4 linked regions of the Homo sapiens genome follow. The protein of the gene in region 1 interacts with the protein of each later gene in a biochemical or structural test. Each region holds a gene or a part of one and is shown in the gene's direction. Other genes may lie near its edges.

The links.
Region 2: of the proteins of NACC1 (region 1) and SENP2, one has a biochemical effect on the other in vitro, tested with the Homo sapiens proteins (one study listed by BioGRID).
Region 3: of the proteins of NACC1 (region 1) and SENP1, one has a biochemical effect on the other in vitro, tested with the Homo sapiens proteins (one study listed by BioGRID).
Region 4: the proteins of NACC1 (region 1) and PML form a complex in vitro, tested with the Homo sapiens proteins (one study listed by BioGRID).

The regions. Positions count from the first base shown.
Region 1 is NC_000019.10:13,126,574-13,135,583, forward strand, and holds part of NACC1 (nucleus accumbens-associated protein 1), read left to right. Parts: intron 1-8,626; 5' UTR 8,627-8,634; coding exon 8,635-9,010. UniProt on the Homo sapiens protein: Functions as a transcriptional repressor. Seems to function as a transcriptional corepressor in neuronal cells through recruitment of HDAC3 and HDAC4. Contributes to tumor progression, and tumor cell proliferation and survival.
Region 2 is NC_000003.12:185,630,431-185,635,197, forward strand, and holds the end of SENP2 (sentrin-specific protease 2), read left to right. Parts: 3' UTR 1-3,121; downstream 3,122-4,767. UniProt on the Homo sapiens protein: Protease that catalyzes two essential functions in the SUMO pathway.
Region 3 is NC_000012.12:48,060,134-48,069,143, reverse strand, and holds part of SENP1 (sentrin-specific protease 1), read left to right. Parts: intron 1-2,178; coding exon 2,179-2,217; intron 2,218-3,463; coding exon 3,464-3,548; intron 3,549-3,923; coding exon 3,924-4,079; intron 4,080-5,302; coding exon 5,303-5,434; intron 5,435-9,010. UniProt on the Homo sapiens protein: Protease that catalyzes two essential functions in the SUMO pathway.
Region 4 is NC_000015.10:74,031,796-74,040,805, forward strand, and holds part of PML (protein PML), read left to right. Parts: intron 1-776; coding exon 777-920; intron 921-1,360; coding exon 1,361-1,619; coding exon of another isoform or gene 1,620-1,627; intron 1,628-2,682; coding exon 2,683-2,735; coding exon of another isoform or gene 2,736-2,861; exon of another isoform or gene 2,862-3,376; coding exon of another isoform or gene 3,377-4,156; exon of another isoform or gene 4,157-4,211; coding exon of another isoform or gene 4,212-4,265; exon of another isoform or gene 4,266-4,599; intron 4,600-9,010.

The DNA.
Region 1 (9,010 bases):
TCATCCTGCCAGCCCCCTTCCTGCAGATGGCAGGATCCACCGGCAGTGTGAGCAATTCGTCAGGTAACACTGCGGTCTCAATAGGCCCCTGACTGCTGGCTACCCACCTTGGCAGCTGTCAAAGGAGGTCGTCTGTCTGCCCAGCCACAGATAATGCTTCTGAGCCCTATTCCTGTTTGAGCCACGTTAATGTGGAACAAAACAGGGAGTTAGGTTAGGAGGAATGGAAGTAATTCTTTGTTCATTTTTTCCACGAAGGACTGTGAGCACCCACTGTGTACCTGGCCAGGTCCTAGGGGTAGAGGACACAACAGGGATCTACACAGGCAAACTCCCTGCCCCAGGGAAACTGACATGAAGCCCCAAAAAATGCCCAGTTTGGCAGGGGTGGTGGCTCGCACCTGTAGTCCGAGCACTTTGGGAGGCCAAGGCAGGAGGACCACTTGAGCCCAGGAGTTTGAGACCAGCCTGGGCAACATTAGGGAGACCTCGTCTCTATTACTAAAAAATGCACAAATAAATAATTTTTTTTTAGAAAAAGAAAAATGGCCAGCTTGCTAAATAAATCATAGGAACTCCCAAGAAGGATAAGTCAAGCAGGGAGAATCAAGCCAGGGAGTTAGTGTCGGGAAGGGCTTTGTTGGTCAGACGCAGTGGCTCATGCCTATAATCGCAGGGTTTTGTGAGGCTGTGGCAGGAGGAACACTCAGCTGGGAGTTGGAGACCAGCCCAGGCAATATAGTGAGATCACGTCTCTACCAAAAAAAAAAAAAAAAAAAAGCATACATATACATATACTTTTTTTTTTTTTTTTTTTTTTTTTTTTTCGGTTAACTGGATGGGCCGGGTGCCGTGGCTCACGCCTGTAATCCCAGCACTTTGGGAGGTGGGCGGATCACTTGAGGTCAGGAGTTCAAGACCAGCCTGGCCAACATGGTGAAACCCCATCTCTACTAAAAATAGAAAAATTAGCCAGGCATGGTGGTGGTTACCTTTAATCCCAGCTACTCAGGAGGCTGAGACAGGAGAATCGCTTGAACGATTCTTGCAGTGAGCCGAGATCCCACCACTGCACTCCAGCCTGGGCGACAGAGCGAGACTCTGCCTCAAAAAAAAAAAGAAAAAAAAAAATTAGCTGGATGTAGCTCCTGTGGTCCCAGCTATTTGGGAAGCTGAGGTGGGAGGATTGCTTGAGCCCAGGAGTTTGAGGCTGAAGTGAGCTATGATGGTGCCACTGTACTCCAGCCTGGGTGACAGAGCAAGGCCCTGTCTCCAAAAGCAAAAGAGTAGAGAAAGGGCTTTATGTGACCAGGGAGAGTATGAAGAGCTATGGCTGTCCCATTCCCATTCTAGTAGGTCCGAGAGCAAGCAGGGCCAGACTGCCAGGGGCCCCAATAAAGCATTGTAGGGGCCCAGGCAGTGTCACTTGGGGCCAAGGTAGTACAAAGTGGTTTTGAAGGAGTTGAAGATGAATCCAAGGATCTGAATGAGGAGGGCCAGAGCTGGTGAAGCTACGGCATTCACAGGTTTTGGGAAGGACTGGAGCCAGGTCCTGAAATTGTTGAGTGGAGGTGTCTGGGGTGTGTGCGAGTCTGGCATTCACAGGGAAGTCCGGGCCAAAGACTCCAGTGGGGGAGGCATCAGTGAATAGATGGTGCTTCAGGCCTGTCTTAGTCAGCTCAAGCTGCCACACAACAAAATATCACAGACTGGGTGGCTTAAACAACAGACATTTATATTTCAGAGTGCTGGGGGCTGGCAGTCTAGATGAGAGTGCCAGCGTGGTCAGGTTCTGGTGAGGGCTCTCTTCATGGCTTGCAGACAGCTGCCTTCTTAATACCACCGTTATGACCTCAATTAACCTTAATTAGCTCCCAAAGGTTTTATCTCCAGATACAGGCACATTGGGGCTCAGAGTTTCAATCTGTGAATTTGGAGGGACATACTTTGTCCATAGCAGAGCCCTGAGACTGAGCCCAGTCCCCTGGAGGTGAAAACCCTTTCTGGAAGGGCCACACTCCCCATCCACTACTGCCCTTCCTAGATCTCAGCTCCAGTGTCACCCCTTCTGGGCAAGGTCAGGCACCCCAGTGTGTAGCACATTGATCTGTGTGACCAAGGATGAATGGCCCTGTCTCCTGCTGGACTGTGAGCTCCAGAGGCAGGGCTACTTTGTCACCATTGTGGCCTGCCCAGGCAGGGACCTGGCAAATATTTATTGAGTAGTTGTTGGGAAGTCATGGAAACCGTGTGCTGTGCCCTTGGGTCTCACCAGAAGATCTGCTCAGGCCCAGGGCCAGGACTAGGCACTGTCCTGGCCAGGAAGGTCCCAGCTGCCCTGTGGCCTCCTGCCCTTGTCCCCCACACCCTCAGGGGTGCTGATATGCTGAATTTTAAGGAGAGATGATTCTCATATGGTTTTCTGCCCTTGGGGAGTTTATAGTCAAGTGGGACTTAGTTTCCTCAGAGGTAAGCTTAAGGGCACTGTGGCCGGGGTGGGGCAGGAGAGGGACATCTTCTCTAGCCTGGAGAAGTGAGTAGCTGAGGGTGGAGGAAGAGGGTATTCCAGGCAGGGTGCACAGCTTGGGCAAAGGCCTCGCTGCAGTAGAGGAGGACCAGGCAGTGTGTTTGAGCCTGACTTAGGTGGGGATTTGGTGGGGACTAGAACCATTAGGTGGTTTAGAGACCTCAATCCTCGACTCCATCCCACCCCTGCTTCAGCCAGCAGGTGACCCTGCTAGGGACCTGCCAGCGAGAGACCCGTTTCCTCTGAGTCCAGTCATGCTAGCTCCCTTCCTGGGGCTAGCGTGGGTGAGGGCTTCTTGCAGGGGCCCACATAGTTTTTCTCCTGAGTCCATTGGGCAGGATTGGGCCGGATTGGGCCAATCACAGAGGGATGGAGGGGTTCCCAGAGATGGGTCTGCTCTGGCCCACACTGCAGCTCACCCCTGTCCACTCTGTGCGGGGGCCACTGGGGAACTAGACGAACAGCATTCAGGTCACTGTGGCTCACAGACCCGTCGCCCCACTCCGCTCGTCCCCAGCAGCATGGAGGGAGGGAGAGCTCCCGTGCGCTAATTGGCTGAGCTATTTGGACCAATTGCTAATCAAAGGCTCCAAAGCCCTGGGTGCTGTGGTGCTGGGCTCTGAAGCTGAGGTTCACAAGGTATGGGGGACCTCAGTCTGAGCATCAGGTTGGCTCTCATTCTCAGGAGGGGACCTGGGCCACCTTCCCAACCCCCACATCTCTGTTGCCTCCTATTATCCCCGTAACCTTTCAGTCTCCATTGCCAAATGGGGGGGTTCAAGACCAGCCTGGACAACATAGTGAGACCCTGTCTTTAAAAAAAAAAAAATTACCTGTGGCCGGTGCTGGGTGCTTGGTAAGGTCACCTTGAAGCAGTCCTGTGCCCGTTCTGCACTGTTTTGTTTGTTTGTTTGGTTGGCTGGTTGGTTGGTTGGTTTTGGTGGGGTAGTGGGGTCGGGGGATGTGGTTTTTTGTTTTTGCTTTTTTTGTTTTAGAGACAGGGTCTCGCTCTATGACCCAGGCTGAAATATAGTGGCACAATCATCACTCACTGCAGCCTCTAACTTTTTGGCTCAAGTGATCCTCCCACCTGAGCCTCCCAAGTAGCTGGGACTACAGGTGCAAGCCACCAAGCCCCACTAATTTTAAAATTTTTTGTAGAGATAGGGGTCTCACTATGTTGCCCAGACTGGTCTTGAACCCCTGGCTTCAGGGGCTCCTCCTGCTTCTGCCTCTCAGAGTGCTGTGATTACAGGCGTGAGCCACCGTGCCCAGCCTCTCTGCACTGTTCTTTAACACATTTACAAATATTTACTGAGCATCTATTTCATTCTAAAGAACTAATCTTGAATAAAACCAGCCAGAATGTTTGCCTTCATTGAGCTGACAGTGCCCTTGGAGGGGTTAACTGTACATACACCTCTTTTTTCTTTTCTTTTTTTTTTTTTTTTTTGAGATGGAGTATCACTCTGTTGCCCAGGCTGGAGTGTAGTGACTCGATCTCAGCTCACTGCAACCTCCACCTCCCAAGTTCAAGTGATTCTCGTGCCTCAGCCTCCTGAGTAGCTGGAACTACAGATGTGCACCACCACACCCGGCTAATTTTTGTATTTTTAGTAGAGACGGGGTTTCACCATGTTGGCCAAGCTGGTCTTGACCTCCTGACCTCAGGTGATCTGCCCGCCTCAGCCTCCCAATGTGCTGGGATTACAGGCGTGAGCCACCGCGCCTGGCCTGTACATATAACTCTTAAAATGCTGCCCTGACCCTGGGGCTCACTTTCAAAGATGTCCACACTCTGTAGGCCAGGACCCCACCTGTCCCATACCCTTCCTGGCAGCCCTGTCCCTGCTACATCGCCCTTCAGCTACACCAGCTTTCTTTGGGTCCCTGGACCACACCTGATACCTTCCCGCCCAGAAGTGTTATCTCTGTCCTGGCAGTTGCTCAACCTTTTATGGTCCCTACCACCAAGGCCATCTGCTTGGTTGACATACCCACCCCAACTGTAATTAAATCATCCCCGGTGTCTCCTCACTAGACAGCTCCACATAAGCACAGCTGGTCCTTTTAGGGCTGTGTCCCCAGCACCTCCCACAAAGGAGGATGCAGTTCATCAGGATGGGTTGGATGAACAGCCCATTTTACAGATGAATAAACTGAGGCACAGGCAGGTGCAGGATTTTGGCAGCACTGCACACCTGTCCTGGCTTTGTCCTCCTCCCTGGGGAATGAGCTTGGAGCACCCCTCTAGGAACTGGGATGCCAGCCTCTTCCCTTGACCATCTTGGTCCTTGTCATGTGGGCCCCAGTACCAGGGGTGGCTTTAATTTGGCTGCCCAGGGAGGTGGTTCAGGGCTGCCAGGACCCCTGAAGTAGGCTCTCTGGGCTCTGTCCTTTGCCCCCCAACATGGTGCCTGTTTCTCCTGCCTCTTCATGCAGAGTGGCCAGCTCCTGGCCCATTCAGCTCTGAGTTTGAGCTCCTGGGCGGAGATTTTTGTTGCCTTGTAACTGGGATTCCTAGATCCAGCCTCCACCCTCTGATTGCCCTAAGGAGGTTTTGGGGTTTTGTTTTGTTTTGTTTGTGTTTTCGTAGGATGGTGGCAGTGATTTTGAGGAGGGGAAGAGGAAGGAAGATACAAGCAAGGGAAGTCACAGGCTGTGGTGCCTAGGCAGACCCTGGTTTGAATCTTGGCCTTACCACTTTTTGCATGTAAGTGGTAGGGGCAGCAGATAGCTCAGGACATATCTTGGGTTTTTTTGTTTGTTTTTGTTTTGAGACATAGTCTCACTCTGTTGCCCAGGCTAGAGTGCAATGGCACAATCTTGACTCACTGCAACCTCCACCCTCCCGGGTTCAAGTGATTCTCCTGCCTCAGCCTCCCGAGTAGCTGGGATTACAGGCACCGGCCACCACACCCAGCTAATTTTTGTATTTTTAATAAAGATGGAGTTTCACCGTGTTTGCCAGGCTGGTCTCGAACTCCCGACCTCAGGTGATCCACCTGACTCGGCCTCCCAAAGTGCTGGGATTGGCCAGGTGTGGTGGCTCATGCCTGTAATCCTACACTTTGGGAGGCCAAGGCAGGTGGATCATTTGAGGTCAGTAGTTCAAGACCAGCCTGGCCTATGTGGTGAAACCGCATCTCTACTACAAGTACAAAAATTAGCCGGACATGGTGGCACACGCCTGTAGGCCCAGCTACTCAGGAGGCTGAGAATCACTTGACCCTGGGAGGCGGAGGTTGCAGTGAGCCGAGATGGCACCACTGCACTCCAGCCTGGGTAACAGAGCAAGACTCTGTCTTAAAAAAAAAAAAAAAAAAAAAAGTGCTGGGATTACAGGCTTGAGTCATCCCGCCCTTCAGGACATATCTTTTGAATTTTGAACCTGGTGAATGAATTTTTAGATGACCTCAGGACAGTCCTCAATTTCCACATGACCTCAGTTTTTCCAGCTTTGCAAGGGGAGTATGAAACCAGCCCTGAAGTCTTGCTAAGAGGATTCGGGGAGCTCATAGAAGTTGTGAGTTGGTTCCTCCATTCGCCTGGGTGTTGTAAGGGGCAGGGCCTGTGTCTTGCTTGTGGCCTGCCAGGGTAGCAGCTCAGTAAGTGAGATGGTATCTCACTGTGGTTAGGATTCACATTTCCCTGATGACTAGTAATGTTTCCGTGTAATTTCTTGAATGATCATTCAGTAACAATAAGTGTAGGTTGAGTTTGTAGAATCAGGTTGACCTCCTCAGCCTCGATTTCCAAATGGAGAAAGCAGAGATTTGGAGCTCCTGGTCAGAGGAGCAGGTCGGTGCTGGAGCCAGGACTCAACCTTAGGTTGTACCTCTGAGCCTTTGAACACTTGCCGTTTCTATTCCTCACAGCAGCCCTTTCAGACGGAACGGGTGTTACCAGATTAGGAGGAGAGTGGCCACTGTATTCTCAGTGCCCAGCCCAGGGAGGCAGATCTGAGTGGAGTTGCTAATGAAACATGGAAGGTGCTTGAGAGCTAACTGGAAGGGAGGGAAGGTGTGCATTCCTGCACCAGGGCCTTTGCATGTACTTGTTACTTTCTCCTGCTGGCCAGCTGGAGTGTCTGGAAAGATCTGCCTTACTCAGGGAAGCCTTCTCACTCGCACTCTGCCCAGTTAGGACCACTGCCCTCTAGAGACCCTATAGAATTACAGAGGAGGCCGGGCGTGATAGCTCACACCTGGAATCCCAGCACTCCAGCCTGGGCGACAGAGTGAGACTCCATCTCAAAAAAAAAAAAGAAAAAAGAATAAACCCCACACACCTTTGCCTTCCCTTTGCTTTCCCTCACCACACCCCCATTCTCCCCGCCTCCCAGCCCCTGGCAACCACTAATCTGCCTCCTGTCTGCGTGGATTTGCCTGTCCTGGACATTTCCTATAAATGGATCATACAATCTGTGGTCCTTTTGTTTGGCCTCTTTCTGTTGGAATAATCTTTTCCAGGGACATCCATGTTGTAGCATGTGTCAGAATTTCCTTTCTTTTTATAGCTGAATAATATCCCATTGTATGGACTGACCATGTTTAGTTGGCCCATCCATCCGCAGATGGACGTTTGGATTGTTTCCACCTTTGGGCTATTGTGAATAATGCTGCTGTGAACGTTTGTTTACAGGTTTTCAATGCAGGCAAATGTTTTCGTTTTTCCTGGGCATAAATTCCAGGAGTGGAATCGCTGGGTCATATGGTAACTCTCTTTAACCGTTTGAGGAACCGTCAGACTGTTCTCCATGGTGGCTGTGCCATTTGACATTCCCACAAGCAGTGGAAATGGGTTCTGGATTTCTCATCCTCACCAACTTTTTTGATTCCAGCCATCCTAGTGGGTGTGAGATGGTGTCTCATTGTGGTTAGGATTTGCATTTCCCTGATGATGTTTTCTTCTAATTTCCCTGATGACTAGAGATGTTTTCATGTAAGTTATTTATTTATTTATTTATTTTTGAGACAGTGTCTCTGTCTGTATCCCAGGCTGGAGTATAGTGGCGCAATCACAGCTCACTGCAGCCTTGACCTGGGCTCAACAACAGATCCACCCCCCACCACACCCTCCCTAGTAGCTGGGACCACAGGTGTGCTCCACCATGCCGGGGTAATTTTTGTATTTTTCGTAAGAGGCAGGGTTTCACCATGCTGCCCAGGCTGGTCTCAATCTCCTAGGCTCAAGTGATCCACACGCCTTGCCCTCCCAAAGTGCTGGGATTACAGGCATGAGCCACTGCACCCAGCCTCATGCAATTTCTTTTTCCTTTTTTTTTTTTGAGACAGTCTTACTCTATGCCCCAGGCTGAAGTGCAGTGCCACAATCTCGGCTCACTGCAACCTCTGTCTCCTGGGTTCAAGTAATTATCTGGCTTCAGCCTCCCTAGTAGCTGGGACTACATACCCACACCACCTTACCTGGCTAATTTTTGTATTTTTGGTAGACAGGGTTTTGCCACGTTGGCCAAGCTGGTCTCGAACTCCTGGCCTCAAGTGATCCGCCTGCCTCAGCCTCCCAAAGTGCTGAGATTACATGAGTGAGCCACTGCGCCTGACCTCATGTAATTTCTTGAGTGGTCATTTAGTCATTATACAAACAGTGATTGAAGGGCATGTGCCCAGCACTGCAGACTCTGCTGCACAGTCAGATGACCCTGCCTTTCTGGCATTTCCATGCCAGTACCCTGAAGAGATACCATATATGTACCTGGTGCTTGCAATAGCTGGCACTCAGAGGTAGCACACTGTGTCCTAGCCACTCTTCCGAGCACTTAAGCATATTCAGTTACTCTTCAAGTACATATGAATAAGTATGCCTTTGCCCCCTCCTCTTTGCAAGGGATAGCGTGTGGCCACCCTGGTCTGCAGCTAGCTTAGCAGATTTGACCACATATTGTAAAAGTGAGTCTGTACCAGGACAGATAGGGTAGAGGGCTCTGTGTGGTTTAGCACCATGGTAGATTCCATCGTGCGGATGTCCCTCCAGCAGGGGAGGTCTTTGGGGCCAGGGCTAGGCCAGCACCCACATTTGCCGCCTGACCCCGTCCCTCCGTCTCTGTCTCTCCATTCCTCCCTGCCCCTCGTGCAGCCGCTGCCATGGCCCAGACACTGCAGATGGAGATCCCGAACTTCGGCAACAGCATCCTGGAGTGCCTCAATGAACAGCGGCTGCAGGGCCTGTACTGTGACGTGTCAGTGGTGGTCAAGGGCCATGCCTTCAAGGCCCACCGGGCCGTGCTTGCTGCCAGCAGCTCCTACTTCCGGGACCTGTTCAACAACAGCCGCAGCGCCGTGGTGGAGCTGCCGGCGGCTGTGCAGCCCCAGTCTTTCCAGCAGATCCTCAGCTTCTGCTACACGGGCCGGCTGAGCATGAACGTGGGCGACCAGTTCCTGCTCATGTACACGGCTGGCTTCCTGCAGATCCAGGAGATCATGGAGAAGGGCACCGAGTTCTTCCTCAAGGTGAGCTCCC
Region 2 (4,767 bases), on another chromosome or scaffold:
TTGAGGCTCAAAAAATGCTGGGAGAAATGAAAATGCTGTGGGATAGGGCTCCTGTTGCCTTTCAGAGGAAGTCTGACACTACAGCGTTGGCACAGTGCCGTGAACAGTGGAACTGTGCCCAAGGGACTCTGATTATCCAAGCATCTTCCGAAGAGTGTTGTGGTCACCTTAAAGAGACTTCCCCTTCTGGAAATGTGGTGACTTGGCTTAGTCTTCAAACTGGATTCATGGATTTGAAGTAACTGTAAACCCTAAATCTTCATTTTCATCCCAGATCTGGTTGAGTATAAACCTCAGAATTGTAGGGGCTGGCCTGAGCTGTTTATTTCAAAAGATACTATTCAATTTAAAGCTATTTTTCCTCAGAGTTTTTGTTTTCTATATATTAAGTCTAAATTAAGTTTTCTACTCATTAAGACTAACATCTCCCCACTCCATCCCCACTGAAATTTGTGGAAGAAAATTTAGTACTTGGCTCTGAGGTTGCCAGTTATACAATAATCTATTTTGCATATGAAAGTTTGTATTTAACTTTTTTGTTCATTAAAAACCTTACTGATATGGTTATAACTTCAGACAGTTTAGAGTTGGTCAGAACATATTTTGCAAGATCTAGTGCCTAGTGTTGCTTTTCTGATGTAATAAAAGGTGGTCTGGCAGAACCTAAAAAAGTATATGCTGAAATGATTTCTAACCCTCTCCCTACTTAAACCTCCCAGACTTGTTCTGGTTCATAAAAGCAAGAGGTAAAACTGGAAAAATTGTGCACGTGTTACCTATGAATCTACACGCCTGCCATTTGCAGTGCTCCGGCTGCTGGTCCCAGAGGTATACTGGTTACAGCTATTGCAGCCAGTTCCCTGAGACTTGTAAAACTCCTGGTTTAGGACATGGGGCCTGTGGTGTGGATGGAAAATGCTGGGCCTACTGGATGGTCAGCCAGAGGCCATGTGGTGGGTGATGACTGAAGCGGGAGCAGGTTGTACCACACCTCTCCCCCCCCCCTCCCACTCCCCCTCCCTCCCTCTCCCCTCCCCCTCCCTCCCTCCCCCCTCCCTCCCTCCCCCCCCTCCCCCTCCCTCCCCCTCCCTCTCTCCCTAACACCCACCCTCCCCCTTTCCCCCACCCTCCCCCCTTCTCCCCTTTCCCCACCCTCCCTCCCCCCTTCCCCCTCCCCCCCCCCCCCCCGCAGCCCCTGCTCCTTTCTCTGGGCTCCTGGCATTGTGCCAGTGAGTGCTGGGACCAGGTAATGAGCACAGCCAAAAAGGCCAGAGGTTCACTAGGTCAGCATCATACCAAACGCCTGGCTTTCACCAGGCATCAGTGTGCTTCACTTGAGAGTTTGGTACCATGGTTAAGATCGAGTCCATGCTAGGTAAGTCCTGTTAGGAATGTCAGTTTGTATTCCGCCCACGTGAATGATGCTGAGCTTAATGTATTATTTTGAGGGGCTTCTTCAGAGCAGTTCTCACTGAGCTTTCCATTAACCTACACTCTTCCGGACGGCTCTTAAAACTTGCAGGACATAATGAAATTGGGAAGAGCAGAGTGTTGAAGTCTATAGCATGGCCTTCTGCTTGACCCTGAGTTCCTGAATTGAATGTGGGAGACCACAGGCCATACTTCTCTAGGCACTCACATGTCTCCCTTGGCATAAGGAAACATGTTAGTAATATAGTTTTTTAGATCCAAACAGTTTATTTGGATCTAAAAGTTTAAGTGTTCAGTTGAAAAACAGCTATTGATTTTATTAGTAGCAAATTATCACCATTAAAGCCAGTGGTTTTTTTTTTGTTTTTTTTTTTTGTTTTTTTTTTTTTTTTTTGCGACAGAGTCTCTTGTCGCCCAGGCTGGAGTACAATGGTGTGATCTCAGCTCACTGCAACCTCCGCCTCCCAGGTTCAAGCGATTCTCCTGCCTCAGCCTCCTGCGTAGCTGGGATTACAGGTGCCCACCACCACACCCTGCTAATTTTTGTACTTTTAGTAGAGATGGGGTTTCGCCATGTTGGCCAGGCTGGTCTTGAACTGCTGACCTCAGGTGATCCACCCGCCTCGGCCTCCCAAAGTGCTGGTATTACAGTCATGAGCCACCTCACCCAGCCTGTTTTTGAGACGGAGTTTCACTTTTGTCGCCCAGGCTGGAGTGCAATGGCGCTATCTCAGCTCACTGCAACCCCCACCTCCCAGGTTCAAGCGATTCTCCTGCCTCAGCCTCCCGAGTAGCTGGGATTACAGGCATGTGCCACCACCCCTGGCTAATTTTGTATTTTTAGTGGAGACGGGGTTTCTCCATGTTGGTCAGGCTGGTCTTAAACTCCCGACCTCAAGTGATCTGCCCGCCTCGGCCTCCCAAAGTGCTGGGATTACAGGCGTGAGCCATTGCACCTGTCCCTGCCAGTGTGTTTTTAAAATAGTTTAGGGGGTTGAGAAAAGATGCAGTGAGCCATTATTCTCCTTTAGCAGGTAGTCTCTTAAAAATTGATGTGGATTTTAAAAATATACCATTGAGAACACGTATCTTTCTCAAACTTGACCTTGAACAGAGCTGGATGGGGGTGGGAGGGAAACAGATTTGGGGCATATGGAAGATATTCTTGGGAGCCCCATATTCTACCTCAGTTACCGAAGGCTATTAGAACCTCTGAATTTTTCCTCCTCTGAAATCCTAAGCACAACTTCAGAAAACCATGTCTGATAGCGGATGTCTTCCTGCTGTGAGGAGCTGCTTGATGTGGGGACCAAGGTGTGGGTGTGGGCGGAATGTATCCTAGTAGAAACAGTGAACCTCAGATATGAATAAATAAGCAAGAGACCGAAAGTTAAGTGTGTGACAACCTCAGTACTGTAGTTAAGCTACATTCTTTAAATTAGCTTTTGTGAACTGATTGGGAACCTAATCTCTTTTGTAACTGTTTGAGAAAAACTCTGAAGCACCTGATATTCAAACAAACTTATGGTACTTACTAACTCATTTGTAAATTGGCGATGTAGCTGGCTGTAGTATTGCTTTGATAATTTTTTTCTTTTAATTTACCTAATATATATAAGGAAGGGGTTTGGATATATTAAAATAGGTGTTAATTTTATCTATTTACCAATAAATTCATCTCTTTAATTCAGTGGCTTTCACTTGTTTTTTATTGCAACTCATAGGAATAAGTATTTTATGTTGTGACCACACACACACACACACACAGTGTGATTGTATATGGACACAAACAACATTGCACATACACTTTTGTGAAGTAATACATATCCTTACTATGATGATAGTTTTATTTCAGTTTTTAAAAACATTTAGGTTGTAACCACCAAGTTGATTTCTCTGCCCACTAATGGACAGATAATGCAGAGAAGGAAAATACTGCTCTAAGTGACCTGACCGCGAGGCAAATGATGTTTAAAACCATAAAGCCTGAGACCAAAAAATACCATATATATTATAAATGTGAGGCTGTTTTGAGATGACTCCATCTAAATCTAGGAAAACAGACTAGCAGCTTTGAGACTTTTGATGGAAATATGTGGTGGAAACAATCTTTAGGTTCTCAGATGGGCATTTCCTAAAATGTGTTAAGTAGAAGTCTTGTAACTTGTATAAAAAATATGAAATCCCAGCACTTTGGGGGCCATTGAGGCAGGAGAATTGCTTGAGCCCAGGAGTTTGAGACTAGCCTGGGCAAGATAGCAAGACCTCAGTTTTTTTTTGTTGTTGTTTTTTTTTGTTTGTTTGTTTTTAAAGGATATAAAGCAAAGGGTCTGTGGGCCAATGAATATGTGTACCATGTCCTTTCCTCCTGGGGATGTATAACAAACATCATAAGAAGTTTGATATGAACGAGTTATGTCTTAACCTAGCATTTCCCAAAACTTGGACATTGAACCCTTTTCTATGAGACACCTGTGGAACTATTTTTTGGAATACACTTCTTAGGAAAGTGCCAGGAGAAGCAACAGAGAGAGTTCTTGGCAGTATGTACTTTAAGAACACACTGGGCAACCTTACCACTCCCCTTCCACGGCCTCCCAGCAACACCCCCCTCCTCATGGTGATCATAAAGTCTGATCCCACACTACCACCCTGTCTCCTTTTATTTTTATTTAATTATATCAGTAATAGGGGTTCATAGAAAATACCGATAAGGTAAAGAAAGTTAATTCTGCAAATTCACAACCAGAGTTAATACCTCTTAACATTAACATTTGGGGCGGGCGCGGTGGCTCACACATGTAATCCCAGCACTTTGGGAGGCGGAGTTGGGCCAGTGACGAGGTCAGGAGTTCAAGACCAGCCTGACCAACATGATGACACCCCATCTCTACTAGAAATACAAAAATTAGCTGGGTGTGGTGGTGGGCACCTGTAATCCCAGCTACTGGCGAGGTTGAGGCAGGAGAATCGCTTCAGCCCGGGAGGCGGAGGTTGCAGTGAGCCGAGAGCACACCACTGCATTCCAGCCTGAGACTCTGTCTCAAAAAAAAAAAAAAAAGTGGGTATATATCCTGGCCTTCCCCCTTCATGGGTGTGTGAATACATGTACAGGCTTGTGTGTGTATATAACTTGTTATTAACAACAAATACAGAATTATATAAACGGTTATATAACTCCTTTTCCACTGGAACATTTTCACATCAATAAATATATCATTTTAATGGCACAGTATTCCACTATATGGCTATAACATTTATTTAATCCAGTATTACTGAATATAACATCTTGCACAATGTTTGGTTTATTCTAAGAAACTCTTAGCATTACAATTT
Region 3 (9,010 bases), on another chromosome or scaffold:
TCTTGCTCTATCATCCAGGCTGGAGTGCAGTGGCACAATCTCTGCTCACTGCAACCTCCGCCTCCCGGGTTCAAGTGATTCTCGTGCCTTACCCTCCAGGGTAGCTGGGATTACAGGCATATGCCACCACACCCAGCTAATTTTTGTATTTTTAGTGGAGATTGGGTTTCACCATGTTGGCCAAGCTGGTCTCGAACTCCTGACCTCCGGTGTTCCACCCACCTCAGCCTCCCAAAGTGCTGGGATTACAGGCATGAGCCACTGTGCCTGGCCTTAATTTTGCTTTTCAAAATCTCATCCAGGTGTTATTTTTTTTTTCTCAGAAGATTTCTTTGACTTTGCCAGATAATGTTAGTTTTTCCCTCCATCCTTCTACCTTGTTTGTTACTAATACTTTTGTATCTGTCACCCATTGCTGGTCATAGTGCTTGGCATATGATGGGTGCTCAGTAAATAAATCTTTGTTAAACAAATGAATTTCCTAGATAGCCTGAAGTGCTCTCTTGAGTAGCCCAAGTACTTATTCCTCCCCCGCTTTTTTTTAATGCTTTCATCTATTGAAAGGCACAGTCGAAAGAACACAGTCTTTGGAATTGGACAGATAAGATTTCTAATCCTAGCCTTTCAAGAGAAATTATCTTTTTGAACCTCCTTTTTCATTTCTGTACAGTATGAGTAATAATTCTTTTTTATATATTATGTTGAGGTTTAAATAGTATAGGGATTTTCATTAGGCTTAACTAATACATAAAACATCTAGAGCAGAGTTTTACATGTAGAGCACTAAGTATGTGCTCAAAAACATTTGCAGTTATTATTACTATATGCCTCAATTATATGAGAAATAATGCATCTCTTTGGAAAAGCAGATTTTCCCTGCATTTTGTTTTCCGGAGCCAGTGGATACCTTGATCCATTGAAGAAAACTGCTTGTCCCTACATTACTTGTTTATTCAAGAAATACTATATGGCTGGGCATGGTGGCTCATGCCTGTAATCCTAGCACTTTGGGAAGGCCAAGGTGGATGGATCACCGGAGGTCATGAGTTCGAGACCAGCCTGGCCAACATGGTGAAACCTCGTCTCTACTAAAATAAAAATAAAAAAAAGAAAAAATTAGCCAGGTGTGGTGGCGGGTGCCTGTAATCCCAGCTACTCAGGAGGCTGAGGCAGGAGAATCTCTTGAACCCGAGAGGTGGAGGTTGCAGTGAGCCGAGATTGTGCCACTGTACTCCAGCCTGGGCAACAGAGTGAGAGTCAAAAAACAAACAAACAACACTAAATGCCTACTCTGTGCCAAGCACTATTCTAGTTGCAGATCATTTTTTTTTTTTTAAGAGACAGAATCTCACTATGTTGCCCAGGCTGGTCTTGAACTCTTGGCTCAAGCGATTCTCCCACCTCAGCGTCCTAAAGCACTGGGATTACAGGAATGAGCCACCATGCCTGGCCTCTGATCCAGGTCTCTTAACTCCCAATTTGATGCTCTGTTTACTTGTTCTCTATATTTAATAGTTTTCTTTGGAAAAGTGTTCACTCTTCTTCTTTGTGTTTCTGTGATAGATCCTGCCTAGTTAGGAGTTTGGAGATAAGGAAGTTTGAGAAAAACAAGAGGCTCTAGGACAATTAATCATGTCTGTGGCTCTGCTCAGCATATCACTTGGGTTGTCAGCAGAGCCACATGGACCTAGAATTGGCCTGTCATCTTTGGAAGGAAGTTGTGTTGCTGATTCTCTGCTTTGGCTCATTGGCTTGTTAGCCATTTGATGTAGATTATTTTGTGTGTGGGGATTTTTAATAAATCTTTCAATCTGAGTCATTTGGGAAGAGCAATGTTCTAGCTTAATGTATTATTTTGAGAAGTGATGTCCTCTTTCACGTAATGTTGGTCTCATGCAAGTAGGGAGCTATGCCAAATGTAGTATCTCTGCTGAACTTTGGGTCACCTTTTTAACTAATATGTATCCATATGATTTTAACTAATATGTATGCATAAGGATTGTGTCTCCTTAATTCCTAGTTACAATTATTTTATGTCATTTAGATTCCTTTTACTTATTCCATACTTGTAAAGCACTCATATAAACAATTTAAATGATTGTTTTTATTGATGAAAATATTTTAATTTTCTCATAAGCCTCCTGCTCATTTGTCAAATTTTTCTTTTCCTACCCATAGTTCTACTTTCTTCCAGGCAGAGCTGTGGATCAAAGAATTGTAAGTTATTTTTGGTATCATTTTTCCTTCTCAATCAGTTCATTTTTAGTTAGAAGAAATCAAACAATTAGCTAATCATCCTGCTTATTTTTTGCCAATAAGAAGTACCTGTTTAGGCTGGGCGCGGTGGCTCACGCCTGTAATTCCAGCATTTTGGGAGGCTGAGGCAGGTGGATCATCTGAGGTCAGGAGTTCAAGACCAGCCTGGCCTTCATGGTGAAACCTCATCTCTACTAAAAATACAAAAATTGGCTGGGCATGGTGGCACGCGCCTGTAATCCTAGCTACTTGGAAGGCTGAGGCGGGAGGATTGCTTGAACCTGGGAGGTGGAGGTTGCAGTGAGCCGAGATCACGCCACTGCACTCCAGCCTGGGCAACAGAGTAAGACTCCATCTCAAAAAAAAAAAAAAAGAAGTGCCTGTTTATACTTTTAAGTTGTTGGGTTTTCAAAATATTGTTGGAGTTGGAACATTTCTATACTTATGTTTATTAAATCTATAACAATTGTTGAAGCTAAATTAAATTGGAAAAATAGAGTTAGCTATTATATAATAGGGAAAATAAATGATCCTATTTTGGCATTTGTAAAACTAATTTATTGAATAATTCATATTTCTGGACTTTGCAAAATCACTGAAAGCATTTAGTCTCACTTAAGGAACTTAAGTTATCCAAACCCCTCGGTCTCGGTAATTTTTTAAAAATCTATCAAAAATGAAGTATTTGAATTAAACTTCAGTGATATCTTGTATTCGTTTCTCCTTTAGGGTTCAATCCCATTTTTGGATTTCCAGACTGAAGTTTCGCTTTCACTATAATCTTAAAAGCATGTTAAGAAAAGAACTGTGTGTTTACAAATGTTAACAAGTCATCTGTTCACATTTAGCAGCACACTAATATTTTTAGTAATTTCAGTAAAAATAGGTCGGGTGCAATGGCTCACATCTGTAATCCTAGCACTTTGAGAGGCCAAGGTAGGGGGGTCGCTTGAGCCCAGGAGTTTGAGACTAGCCCGGGCACTGTAGTGAGACCCTATCTCTATAAAAAATAATAAGTAAAAATGGTAGAGTAATTTCAGTAACATTATGTGGTTTCACTCTATGTCTTAAAATAAGGATGATAAGTTAGTGTAAGGATTTTAGACTTTCTTTGTGAGGGTCCTGTATTTAATATTCAGTGTACATCAACAATATGTTTCATAATGAGAGTGGTCTACATTTGGTCACGTTCCTTTTCATTTTCTAGAACTAGTGTTTATGATTCTCGAGCACGAGAAAGATTGCGCCAGATTGAAGAACAGAAGGCATTGGCCTTACAGCTTCAAAACCAGGTAAAAAAGAAAATTGGAATAATATTACAAATAAATAGTACATCAAAGTAGAAACTATTTTGGAAAGTTACCCAGATTTGGGTAATTGCTGTTGTAATTCCAAGATCGTATGGTAGCATAGCATGTTATGATATGTCGTAAATGTTCTTGGTCTGTCCAGTCAGTGCTACTCATTGTACATAAGACAAATATAGATAGTCCCCTACTTGTGATGGTTCGACTAATGATTTTTTGACTTTACAAAAAAGCGAAAGCAATGGGCATTTAAGCACGCTCTTTGACTTATGACAGGTTTATTGGGACATAACCCTATCATAAATCAAGGAACATCCACAGATTTCTTTATCCCACTTACTCTGAAGTTTTATCTTTCAGAGATTGCAGGAGCGGGAACATTCAGTACATGATTCAGTAGAACTACATCTTCGTGTACCTCTTGAAAAGGAGATTCCTGTTACTGTTGTCCAAGAAACACAAAAAAAAGGTCATAAATTAACTGATAGTGAAGATGAATTTCCTGAAATTACAGAGGTAAGTTACATACACTTAATTTCTACACTACTAAGTATCATGTTTAGAAAGAATCCCTCGGATGAGTTTCAAACATAAAAGCAATAGTGGTCAGGCACGGTGGCTCACGCCTGTAATCCCATCACTTTGGGAGACTGAAGCGGGTGGATCACTTGAGGTTAGGAGTTCGAGACCAGCCTGGCCAACATGGTAAAACCCCATCTCTACCAAAAATACAAAAATTAGCTGGGTGTGGTGGCATGCACCTGTAATCCCAGCTACACAGGAGGCTGAGGCAGGAGAATTGCTTGAACCCGGGAGGCAGAGGTTGCAGTGAGCCGAGATCATGCCACCGTACTTCAGCCTGGGTGACAGAGCAAGACTCCATCTCACATACACACACACACAAAAAGCCATAGAACACGTGTTATTTAAATTTTCTTGTATATTTCAGCTTTCGCTTATTTTATATACCAATCTGGGCTTTATTTTTAAAATATTGAAAATTTATGAAAGAACTATGGGTGGCTTTTAACAGTTTCAGTGAAGAAGCATTTAATACATTTGTCTTTCATGTCATGTGCATTTTTACTTAATGCACACATACAATAGTTTGACCTCAAATTGTAAGCTGAGATTTGCTCTTTTTTTAAGTAATAAAACCCATTATAGAAAATTTGGAAAATACATGGAGGTCTGTGTACATTTTTAGATAATCCGTTTCTTTATCCATACTTCTCTTTGAAACACTACCATGTAGCTGGTGAGCATAACACACTTATTATAGTTGTACTGAATTCCATACTTTACATTTAAAAAAAAAGATCTCTAAGAAAGTAATTTCTAAAAGATACTGCCTTTACTCTCTTACTACCTTTTATGAAAAATTCTGTTTCTCAGGAAGTCATTTGGACCAGAGATATAAAATACAGTTAATTTTTCTCATGTGCTTAGAAAATTTGATAGCGGAAGGTTGTTCCAGACTTTAGGAATTAATATGGAAACAAGGATCTGAATGTTGTGCTGAAAAAGAGAAGGGAGGACTAGATGAAGTGGAAAGAAGTAATCGGGGATTACTGGGAAGGAATAGAAACCAAAATGTTAGAAGTAAACTGATTAACAGTAAATTTATAAACAATCGAATGGTGATAAATATAGTCTGAGGATTATATGGGGTTTGGTGAGAAATACGGTTTTTCTGAAGCCACGCGTGTTTGATGTCTTGACACCTTTTGTTTTCTTAGGAAATGGAGAAAGAAATAAAGAATGTATTTCGTAATGGGAATCAGGATGAAGTTCTCAGTGAAGCATTTCGCCTGACCATTACACGCAAAGATATTCAAACTCTAAACCATCTGAATTGGCTCAATGATGAGGTAATGTTGCATCTATTTTTACATACAAATAGTAAACATTAAGTGGCAGTTAAATTAAGGCATTATCTCACTTTTTCTCAAAATGTGGTCCATGGATGACCTGCATTGGAATCATCTCTCATAGGCCTCTTCATTCTTGTAACTATGAGGGAGTGTGGTGGAGACAGGCATTTTTAACAAACATCTCAGGTGTATTTTAAAGTCTGAGAACCACTGAATTTACCTTTTCTTGTTGAAGATTTGAACATTGAAGAAGACATTCACTCATTGGTATTCTCACTCTTTAAGGCTCCTATTCTGCAGTTCATCTCTTCTGAACAAATAAGTATTAGCCGACCATGTTGCAGCATGAGGGAATACTGTGGGATTTCTTTATAGGAATCCAGTTTTACTTCCCTTTCTACCTAAGTTCTACTCATTTTAGATCACTTATATTACGAATGACAAGCTTTCCAAAATCGCCTCCATTTATGTATGATATTTTTTAAATGGACATTGAAAAAGTTATATTATTATTAAATATTTGAGGTATTGGGGGAGAAGTTACGGTCTTCACCTCCTAACTCCAATTTATTTTAAGTATATTAATTACACTACAGTTTTTAAACTGATCTGTTCCTAAGCCTAAACCTGTAGGTACCTGTTTTATTTTAGAAGGTTATTTTTACAGCAAAAGAAAACTGGGTTGGGTATCTTTTCCTAAGTACCTTCTTTGCATAAGCATCCCTGGCTAATCTGGGTATACTCAAGCTTCACAGCTGTGGAGGATTTTTAGTTTCTCAGTGTAGTAATCATTAAATATTTTAGATATCCATATCCTGTTTTTGTATGATCAAGACCTTCCAAATAATATTTGCCAATAACTATTGATCATTTACCTCATTAGTACGATTCATGTTTTATGTGTTTTATTCTTGTAATAGTCATCATATCTTTGGAAGTAGATATGATAGTTCACCATTCTGCAGATAAAGAAACAAGGCATAGAAAGATTTAAAAACTTGCAAGGTTATACAGCTAGTAAACAGCAGAGCCAAGATTAAGACCCAAGCATTGGGTCTTATCTACTATATCTTAACTACCTCAGAATCTTAAATTGGATACTGGTCTTAGGATCAGATATATAGAACTTAGGAGCCATATATCATGTCCAGGATGCTTTTTTTCTCTGGGGCCAGCCCCATTCTTTTTGCCACTGGTTGGTTTATAAGATAAAAATTTCAGAAGCTCATCACTCCCTGAATAATATCTGTGACCAAGAATAATAAGGAAGGCATGGTTTGTTACTGTCTTTCTTTAGAAGAAACCCTCTTTGCCTCTTTTGGCTCAGATATTAGAACATTGGTTCAAATAATGGAAAAAAAGAGCTCACCAAATCAAAGGAGGAAATTAAATCAAGGATAGTTATAAGTATCCACTGATAAGTTATTTTTGATCTGTGGTCCTTTGCCATTTATTTCCTGCCATTGCTGGTGGTGCGAGGTCAGTTACTCTAAAGGGATAGTAGGCTTTAGTTTGTTGTAAATCATGGAAAACCTCCTAGAGGGCAGCAATCAGTAGGATATGAGCTGAGTTCTTGCTATTTACTGTGGCATTTACCTCAGTGAGATTCCTTACAGAGACAGCATTCATCAGGACATATTTTCCATTCCCTGGGCCCATCAGAGGCTGGATTTTTAGCAAGCTAAGTTAATGGAAATTACATTATTTTAGAGGAGATGAGAAGAAGGAAAGATTCTTTGTCTACTTTATCCCTACCACCCCTAGCCATAACTTTTGTAGAAGGAGTGCATTTCTTCTCAGTTCAGAATGATGTTATCCTTGAAAATGAGTGCCAGTTCACATGTCCATAATAATGATGGGAGCTATCTTAAAAAGCACCATTTTCAAAGTACCATACTTCGTAGGCTTTCAAAGTTACTGCCCTTGAGAAGCTAACATCCTGATGGAGTATTATTAGGTATCCTTAAGTATTGATACTCATTGAAGAATACTTAATTTTGGCCAGACACAGTGGGTCATGCCTATAATCCCAGTGCCTTGGATGGCTAAGGTGAGAGGATCACCTGAGGCCAGGAGTTCAAGAGCAGCCTGGGCAACATAGCAAGACCCGATCTCTACAAAAAAATTAAAAATTAGCCAGCCATGGTGGCATATGCCTGTAGTCCCAGCTGTTCAGGAGGCTGAAGCAGGAGGATTGCTTGAGTTTAGGAGTTTGAGTTTATAGTGAGCTATGACTGAGCCACTGTACTCTAGACTGGGTGACAGAGCAAGACTCTGTGTCTTCAAAAGAATACAAAACTTAATTCTGTTTCTCAGTTGTGAACTATCAGTCTTTTGCAAATGATTTGTCCTCTGTTCAATCCTCTTCTTCCCTCAAGTAGATATTTTCATTAATAATAATTTCTCTTCTTTTTCTGTTTCCTGCTTTATAAGATGTATTAAAACTTTCTCCAAAATAGGTGACTGATACATTGTTCTTATCATTTTATAAACAAAGTACCATACTTTGTAGGCTTTCAGAGTTAAAAAGTAATATAAGAGCAAGGAAGTAAAAGGAATCAGATTCAGTTTATAAGGAAAATAAAATCCAGAAATCCTATGTTTGGGATATGTATGGAAAGCCATTAGGATACCCTGTTCCTAAAAGAAGAGTGACCACAGTACCTATTCATACAGTAGGTTTTAAGATTTTTTTCATAAATGGATTTCTCTATAGGTCAGTTTGGTTAAATTCTGTACAACTTCAAAGGACTAATGATTGACAGGATTAATATAATAAAACGTCTCAAAAATGGAATGTGGGAACTGGCTGCCATATAAAGAATACAAAAGGAGGCAAGAAGACTGTTACAATCAAGACACCGTAGATGGGGATTTCTATACTGGGTCAGGAGATTAGTTACTAATAGAAATATCTAATTAAGGGAAGGGAGGATAGAGTTAAAGAGAGGAGAAATTACACTGGGAGCAGTGGCTCATGCCTGTAATCCGAACACTGAGAGGCTGAGGTGTAAGGATTGCTTGAGCCCAGGTTGTCAAGGCTGCAGTGAGTTATGATTGTGCAACTGCACTCTACTACAGGGTGAGTGACAGAACAAGACTCTGAGATCCTGTCTGTTTTTTAGAAAAAGGGAGAGAGGAAAAATTAGTTGCAAAAGTAGAAGTAGATTGAAGCAGTCAAGAAACAGAAGGAAATATTTTCAAATGGGTGTCATTATTAGAAACTATGTATTAATTCCTGGAGATTGAATTGGATGACTTCTGGAATCCCTTCCAACTTTAAGATTCTAGGTGTATTATCCTGAGTACTGCTTTAGGCTTTGTGTTTCTCTTTATGGCCAAATGGTTCTCCTTTGAGGGACTAAGGATTGTTTTAAAAGGCATCAGATAAATTTAGAAATACATGGATATAATTTAGGTATACAAGTAAATAAAACTTACTTTTGCTTCTGGTCATGATAAAGGAAACAAGATTTACCCTTTCAACTTAACTAGAAAATTAGACAAAAGATGAAACAACAATTTTCAGACATTGGATAACAGGTAGTACCAGGCAGTGATCCCTGAGGAAGG
Region 4 (9,010 bases), on another chromosome or scaffold:
AGTAATAAGAACAATATTTATCATCATCAATGACATTTTCTAAGTGCCAGGTATTTTATATTTTACTTGTATTAACACATTTCATCCACATTACCATATGAGGTAGATGTTATTATTCCCACTTTATAGAGGGGGACTGAGGCCTGAGGAGTTTTAAGCAATTCATCCAACTTGTGTAGTAGCTGACCCAGGTAGAGTTAAGGCTGAGAGGGCAGAGGCAAGGTCCCAGGGAGGCCAGTTTCAGCTCAATGGGAGGATTTTCTCACTGTTAAAGGAGCTGCTTTCGCCAGTAGTGAGCACTTTGTCCCTGGAGGTGTGTGTCTAAGTAGGGCTAATTACTGAGCATGTCCTGAGTTGGGCAGTGTGATTCCTGGGGTATCTTCCAGCCCTGTTAGGACACACAACAACCAAAGTGGTCCCTGGGCTCCAGTAACTCAGAGTCAGAAGGAGGTGATGCCAGTCGCGGTGGCTCGTGCCTGTAATCCCAGCACTCTGGGAGACTGAAACAGGAGAATTGCTCAAGCCCAGGAGTTCAAGACCAGCGTGGGCAACATAGTGAGACCCTGTCTCTACAAAAAAATTTTTTTAAAAAAAGGAGGTGATGTGATGGAGAGTTTGGAGGACTTCTTGTCCCCAGTGAGCTCGGAGCTTTGAGTCAGGGAGCCTGGACCTGTGACTTGGTGAGGCCCCAGGGATTAGGCCAACCACAGGTCTGGGGTACCTGGCCCTGGGGCTGCTGCCTAGTCATTTCTGACTCAATTTTCCCAACTTTGCAGCCCGAGGAGGCAGAGAGAGTGAAGGCCCAGGTTCAGGCCCTGGGGCTGGCTGAAGCCCAGCCTATGGCTGTGGTACAGTCAGTGCCCGGGGCACACCCCGTGCCAGTGTACGCCTTCTCCATCAAAGGCCCTTCCTATGGAGAGGTAAGGTTCTCCCCAGCCCCAGCCTTCCCTCCTGAAGGCCTGAGTTCCACCAGGAAAGTGAGCTGGCACTGGGGTGGGAATCCAGGCCTTCATCAGATCAGCTCTTTGTGGGAAAGTGTTTGCTCAACGCCTTCTCTGTGCTCTCCCCTGTTCTTGGCTGCATGGTCAGGGAGCTTCCCATAAGCATGGCCCACTCCCAGCCCAGCAGGGGTGCTGAGACACTCAGGGTTGTCAGAGGCCAGCAGAGACTGGTGGACAGCAGATAGTACCAGCTTGGGAAGGCTTCCTGTCTGAAGAGAGACGTAATCTGCGTGGTTGAGAGCAGAGGAGAGGGGACAGCAGGAGCAAAAGGGTGGCCACAAGTCCCTGGCAGTCAGGGCAGGCTCTGCCCACTCACCCCTGCAGGCACCTGACCTGGCTCTGTGACTCCCTCTATGCAGGATGTCTCCAATACAACGACAGCCCAGAAGAGGAAGTGCAGCCAGACCCAGTGCCCCAGGAAGGTCATCAAGATGGAGTCTGAGGAGGGGAAGGAGGCAAGGTTGGCTCGGAGCTCCCCGGAGCAGCCCAGGCCCAGCACCTCCAAGGCAGTCTCACCACCCCACCTGGATGGACCGCCTAGCCCCAGGAGCCCCGTCATAGGAAGTGAGGTCTTCCTGCCCAACAGCAACCACGTGGCCAGTGGCGCCGGGGAGGCAGGTAGGGAGGTGGGTAGGGCAGTGGCCTGGGTGCTGCCCGCCAGGGTCTGGGCGGTGCCCCTCTTCTGTATTTTGGCCCCATCCAGAAAGCCCAAAGCCAACAGGAGTCCCTTATTCCCACTGAATAAGATAGGGAAAGTTCACAGTGTGCGTGGGGGTGAGAGTGGACACAGTTTACCATGTGTTTTGCCATGATTGAGGTGTGGGGAGCCTGACAGGCTAAAATGCACAGTTCTATGAGTCCTTTCTCCCAAACACTACTGTGCCTTTGCACAGGGCAGGTCTCCACAAGAAGTTTGTTGGCTGATGCCTAGCATACTCCCAGAGAGGGCTTGGGCATACCATAACAGGAAACTGGACTCCCCATGACCTTAACTCTGCTCTCTCAGTCTACACCCATCATTTCCCCAAGTGTTTCTGCAAAGGCCACCTACCTAAGTATCTCATTTGTCAGAGTTATCTTCTATGAACACTGCCAGGCAGGTAGTCAGTTGGGCAGGAGTTGAGGTCAACCCAGAGGAATCTGGAACAAGAGAGTTCTAAGGATCTGCTTCACCCAGAGTACAGCTTTGTTCCTCATTCTGACTGAGCCCTAGCCTTGGTCACACACTGAGCACTGACTGATATTCCTTACCCACAAATGCTATTGGTAATCGATGGGTTTTGATTAACTAAATGAAGCGTCTTTTAACTCTAGACATCCCAGCTCATGGAGCTGAGAATGGGGACAGTGTGCTTCTTTAGGATTGCAGAAGGTTCCAGACCAGGTAGCAGTTGTCAGGCCTCCTGTACAGGGGGCAAATTCTGAATTCTGGGCAGATAACTTAATTGAATATTCATAGATAAGGCACAGCAAGAAATTATGGAAACCCATTTGTGAATTACTCAAATCCAAATGCAAAGCAGAGTCACATTGGCACACACAGTGGCTGTTCCCGTCCCCCTGCAGGGCATCCGTTTCCCCCAGCCGACTGGCCTGCAAGGATTCCCATAGGTGCACACCCACACCCCTCCCAGCATGCATCCTAGGCAGTTCATAATGCATCTCCCCTTCCCCGTTTCAGAGGAACGCGTTGTGGTGATCAGCAGCTCGGAAGACTCAGATGCCGAAAACTCGGTGAGTGGCCCAGAAGTTCAGCCCAGGACTCCTGCCTCCCCCCATTTCAGGTCCCAGGGGGCACAGCCACAGCAGGTGACTCTCAGACTTGCCTTGCGCCTGGGGAATTTTCCAGTGAGGCATTGAGTCCCAAGCTGTGCTGAGGACAGTCTCCAAATGACAGCTGCATGCCTGGACCACCCCAGCCCTCCCACTACACCAGGGCCAGGAGCTCTTCTGAAATGCTGATAGCATGTGTCCAGAGCCCTGTCTCTTTTCTGGAATGTCCAAGACCTTTGTCTGGAGCTTCCTTATGCATTTTCTGTCCTCTAAGTCCTCAGTGAGGAGGGCTGGACAAGAATCCATTCCTTGGTTTATTACAGCCAGTGGGGGCCAGTGAAGGGGTGTCAGGCCACAGGGCAGCTATATAGGGGCCAAACAAGTGAGGTTTGACTCCATCCATGTAGAAAGATATATAAATCCATTCCACAGTGAAACAGGTGGCCTCGTGGGTAGTGACCCTTCTGTCCCTAGAGGTTTATTACTAGAGGCTGGACTATCACCTGTCCAGGGGAAAAGGGGATCTGAATAGAGTGAAAGGTTGGACTGGGTGGCCCCTGAGGTCTCTTCCAGCCCTCAGTCTGAGGTTCTGTATTGGAAAGTGCATGGAGCCCATGGAGACCGCCGAGCCACAGTCCTCGCCAGCCCACTCCTCGCCAGCCCACTCCTCGCCAGCCCACTCCTCGCCAGTCCAGTCTCTGCTGAGAGCACAAGGAGCCTCCAGCCTGCCCTGTGGCACATACCACCCCCCAGCTTGGCCTCCCCACCAGCCCGCTGAGCAGGCTGCCACCCCCGATGCTGAGCCTCACAGCGAGCCTCCTGATCACCAGGAGCGCCCTGCCGTCCACCGTGGGATCCGCTACCTGTTGTACAGAGCACAGAGAGCCATCCGCCTTCGCCATGCCCTCCGCTTGCACCCTCAATTGCATCGGGCCCCTATTCGGACTTGGTCTCCCCATGTGGTCCAAGCCAGCACTCCTGCCATCACAGGGCCCCTCAACCATCCTGCCAATGCCCAGGAACATCCTGCCCAGCTGCAAAGGGGCATCAGCCCACCCCACCGGATACGAGGGGCTGTGCGATCCCGCAGCCGCTCCCTCCGGGGCTCCTCCCATTTATCCCAGTGGCTCAACAACTTTTTTGCCCTCCCCTTCTCCTCCATGGCTTCCCAGCTTGACATGTCTTCCGTGGTGGGGGCAGGGGAAAGCAGAGCCCAGACTCTTGGAGCAGGTGTTCCCCCTGGGGACTCTGTCAGAGGCTCCATGGAGGCCTCTCAAGTCCAAGTGCCTCTGGAAGCCTCTCCAATTACATTCCCACCACCCTGTGCCCCAGAAAGGCCCCCCATCAGCCCAGTCCCAGGCGCCCGTCAAGCAGGCCTCTGAGAGTGCTACCCTTCTCTTGTAACCTTGCAGCCAACACCCCTGCCCGGCCCCTGAGCTGCCTCCTCCAGCCCATGCTCTTACAGGCCCTGCACAGAGTAGCACTCATTAATTCTTGGTTAAGGAATGAATCAACGAATGAATGGCTATGCATGGACCTCTGGGCAGGGAGACCTGGGTCTTCTCTGGCTGAGAGGGGAAGGCTAAGGCATGGCTGAGATTCAAGCCACCATTCCAGGCCTCTTTGCCCAAGAAAGAAACTTCTGTCACCCTTGCACTCTCCTGTATTCTGAGTCCCTGGCCAATAGCACAGCCTTCCATGCCCCGACCCCCACCCCAAGCCTCTCCACTAGGCCTCTGCCAGGATCTAAGCCCATGAGCACAGGGACTGGCTATCCCAAGACCTGGCAGATGTGGCTGCTCAATAAACACTTGTTGAACCATCACCCTTGCGAACCCTTATTCCACGACCATCGCGTTCTCCGATGGATCCAGCTCCTCCCTGCAGGCTGTTCTCTCTTCCCTATGCTGGAACTCAGTTCTCCTCTGGGGATACCATGTCCCCTCTTCCTCCCACACTCATGGGCATCAGAGGTGGGAGGTAGGGTCAAGGCCCCCTGCTTCCTGGACTGTTCCAGCCCCTTCCTGGCCGTCTGGTAAGATCCTCTGTCCCTCTCAGGGTGGGCCCCATGCTCCCCAGCTCATCCCAGACACCCACCTGCCCACCCTCATTGAGGGCAGACGTGAGCATTCACCTCCCAGATTTCTTCTCCCTGCTCAGGTCCTGCCTTCCTCCTGAGTGACTTCTATTTCCACCCACCTGCCCGCCACTCCTTAACCTCTCAGGGGTTGTCACCCCATTCCCCCAGACAGCTGCCTGCCCCGTGGCCGTGCCCTGCACCTTGCCATCACCGAGCACTGTCGGTCCCTCAGCCGGTCCTCTCAGACTCTGACCGCAGCCTCCTGTTCCTTGAGCTCTCAGTCCTACCTTCGCCTCCCTCCAGCCCCGCGCACTCCCCATTTCATCCCATCTTTCATCAGAATTGCAGCTCCCTGCCCAGCAGAAAATCCTGGAAGGACTCAGGAGCTTGTCGCCTCTGTGCTGCCACCTGGAGACCGAGATCTGCAGGAGAAAGGCCTGGGAAAACTATGAGTGGTTGCCTGTGACTGCTAAGGGCTCCTTGGTGCTCCGCCCAGCATGTCCTTTTGCTCTGCAGGGCAGCCCCCGCCTGCCTTTCTTCACTGGGCCCTTGTCCCAGCCTCACCCTCAGCTGATGGCGGCACCTTCTGCTCCAGGGAGAAAACAGGAGCTCTCCAATGGCATAGGGACAGTTGACATCTTGCTATTTACAGATCCCCATCGCACCCCTTCCCTGCCCTCGTTAGGGTGGAAGGGATGTCCACCTGCCTCCAGGACTCACCCTGTGTCCTGGCCCCAGCCCTTGACCCCCTGGGAGCCTCACTCCTCCTCCTCATCTCTCTTGCATCTTCTAATGTATCCACTGCCTTCTGAACTAAACACCCTGAATGAGGTCTTTCTCATCTCAGAAAACTCCACCCACTTCTCTCTCCAGCTGTCGGCTCCCCTTCCTCTGCTCTCCTTGTTTACACTTCAGCCCCCTCCTTGCCCCTTCTTCACCCCACCTCCTGCGCTTCCCCGCCAGTACCAGGGTGGCCTCTGTGCCTCTAGGTGCAGTGTCGCGTTTAGTCGTTATTATTCTTGACCGGCGCTGGGCCCGGTCTTTCCTGGAAAGATCGCCTGCTCGGATGCAGCTCTGGGCACTCCTCCCTCTCCTCTGCAGGCTCTGTTTTTTCTTGGTTGTGGTGCTCCTGCAGGTTTGCTGCTGGGCCCTTTCCTCTTTTCAGTCTGTGTATTCTCCCAGGTGCTCTCAGCCACGCCCCTGACTTCAGTTACTGCCCAGGGGTAGCTGATACCCAACACTCGCACCTGCCTGCCAGACCAGCATGGCCAGTGACCTTCCAACAGCTCCGCATGGATGCCCATAGGTACCTCAAACTCAGCACCTTCTCCTCCCGTCTCACTGGCTCGCCCCACTCTCTGCCCGGTTGCACAAGCCAAGACCCCATAGCCACCCAGGGCACCCCCCTTTTGATTATTCCTCACATCCAACCAGTTATTGAGTCTTGTCTTTCTAGGGTGTAAATTCCTCTGAAATCTGGGCACTTCTTTCCATCCCATAATCTTGGTAAAATTAAAGCTACCACTGACCCTGGGTAGAGGCAGAAGCCTGGGAAGGAAAGGTGGAGAACAGGTTTGGAGTGCCAACAGTGTCCCCAGATGTCATGGAGAATCAAGTAGAGGGACCCCAGCAATATTGGGGGTGGGGCGGGGAGTATGTAATGCTCAGCTATCAGCAAGGAGTCATTAGGGGCTATACAGTGAATTAAGGGAGGGGGTAAAAGCACATTTCAGGTGATGATGAATTAAATACCTAGGAGCTCACATTAGAGAGCAGGCCTAGAGACGTGGGGAGAGAGCCAGAGGACCGCTGCTTTTGTGTATGTAGCTTTAAGACACAGGTTTTAAAAATTGTTATAGGAGTCCCAAACTTTAGAAAATATATATTTTAAAACCCCAACAAATTAGGTCCCCCCTATGCATTTCTCACCCAACTTCTGGGCCCTTTCCAGACCCCTGGTGCCCCCAGAGTACACCCAGCACCACCACTGCAAATTCCTACTCCCCAGCTTGGAGGGGGTGGGGTGATATTCCCAAGGTGATCCCGGCTCCCACCTAACCCATCCTCCCCAGCTCTGCAGCTTATATCCAGCTTTGCAGTGAGGAAAGTTGCAGAATACTGGTCTGCTACATTACTACTTTCCAAGTGTATCAGGGCATTTAGGAACCCCTCCCTTGAGCTTCACCTGTGTCCTAGGGATTCAGTGAGAGACTGTTTGTGCAAGAAGGAGCGAGAGGCAGCAGGGCATAGTCATGGGGTGGAGCAGTGAGTCCCCCAGGCCTGGTTGTGGAGTACCTGGGGTGAGGACTTTGCTTAAAAACTGCCAGAGTGGGTCAGCAGTGCGCCTGCCCTGGGGCCCCTGCTTTAGGATCCAAAGTGGAAAAGATAGGTGTTTTCACCCACTCTTGTGACAGATTACTGGCTCCGGTGCCTTGGTGGCAGCAGCAACAGGAGGGGGCCAAGGTGAGGGGGCAGCCTGTGGCAGAAGTGGCAGTGGTGACGGCGGAGGAAGGGAGGCCTGTGGGGAATGGCTGATCCAGGGGAGGGGCCGTGGCACTGGTGAGTGTGCATCTGAGAAAATGAAACGGAGGTGCTGGCCAAGAGGCTGGAGCTAGGCAGAAGGGCAGCAGAGGCCACAGGCTGGCCGAGTTTATGGTCCAGTTCACTCATAACATGTGCAGTATTCCTGGGGTCTTTGAGGCTTTGCAAGAGCTGGGGTTTTGTGTCTGCAGAAAGATAGCAATGCATGTGTCTTGCCAAACTGATCCCAGCTGTAGCTGATGCTTAAGTGCTCAGAAAGTTCTTCAGGAGCTTGAGGGCTCTTGATAAGCATGAATGTCAGATGTTCTGTATCTTCCAGAGGCTGGATGCTGACTATCAGAGTTTGGCTTGTGTTTGGCTGATGAGCAAACCTGGAATGAATCAGTGATAAGGACAATTGTTCTCAAGCTGGCTGTACACTGGGGAGTTTTCCCAACTACAGATTCCTAGGTCCTACGCCCTGAGATTCTAATCGAATCAGTCTTGGGTGCAGCCTGGGCCTCAGTTTTTTCTTAAAGCTATGAATGCCTAACCAAAGTCAAGAACCACTGAATCGGGGGATTCATTGCATGTCTGTGGTAGAGGAATGCTGCTCATTTGTTTATAGATGTGGCAGTCTTGAATGCAGGTGACATTTTCATACCAGGGTGTAATACCGCAGAGGAGGGGAGAGGCTGGATCTTCCCTGATGTACCTCCTGGACTTTTGGAGTGTGATTACAATGCCAATCCAGCCACTTCCTCTGAGCATGCTTGGGACGACTGTTAGACCTGCTGTGTTGAGTTAGAATGCACTTGACCTGCTCAGGCCGTGAAATCTATGAGGAAGGGGAGTGAGATGGATGTAGCTCATGAGCCAGATTGCAGGTGTATCCAAGTTGCATGTATATCCTGAAAAAATCCTGGCTCTCACGAGGCTCAGCCTGAACACAGTTTTGCATTCAAAGAAACAATGTCCATTAACCAAGTATAATAAAGAAATAAATCCCAGTATTTACTTGCATCTTTTGAAAGAACATTAAAGGGAATCCAGCTCATAACCCCAGCAGCACTTCTTCAGTCCTTCTTCCCCTTTTCTTTGGCGCCTGGCATCTCTCACTGCATAGCAAAGCTTTCCCCCTTGATTCCCGGTCCTCACACGCAGGCTCAAGGCTCTGTTTCCCATCTTCTTTCTTCTGTCCCCCTTCCTTTTCTCTTCCAAGCAAATCTAAGTCTTTTCCAGTGACTGTCCCTCTCTATGCTCCCCCGACACCCAGTTATCCTAATTTGCGGAATAAGGCCAAGGTGTGGGGCCTGGGGGCAGAATGGGAGAGTCTCCCCTAGTGAGCAGGGAGGGGAGTATGTTCTGCACCAGGCCACTATGTCTGATGGCCCTGCTGGCAAACCTGAGTCTTTCAGAAAGTCTTGTTTAAATGCGTCAGCACTCCCCAGCTGTGATGCTGGAGTTTAAGGCGGAGCAGGGGAGAATTCTGGGTTTACAGCTGGCTGGAGTTCCAGTGAGACCAGCTCCATGGGTGGCCATACTTTATGGAAGTCCCCAAGGGCAAGAGGAATTTTGGAGGAAGTGAGTCAGGGCTGAAAGGTCCAGCCTCTCCTCCATTAACAAGCTTGGTGGA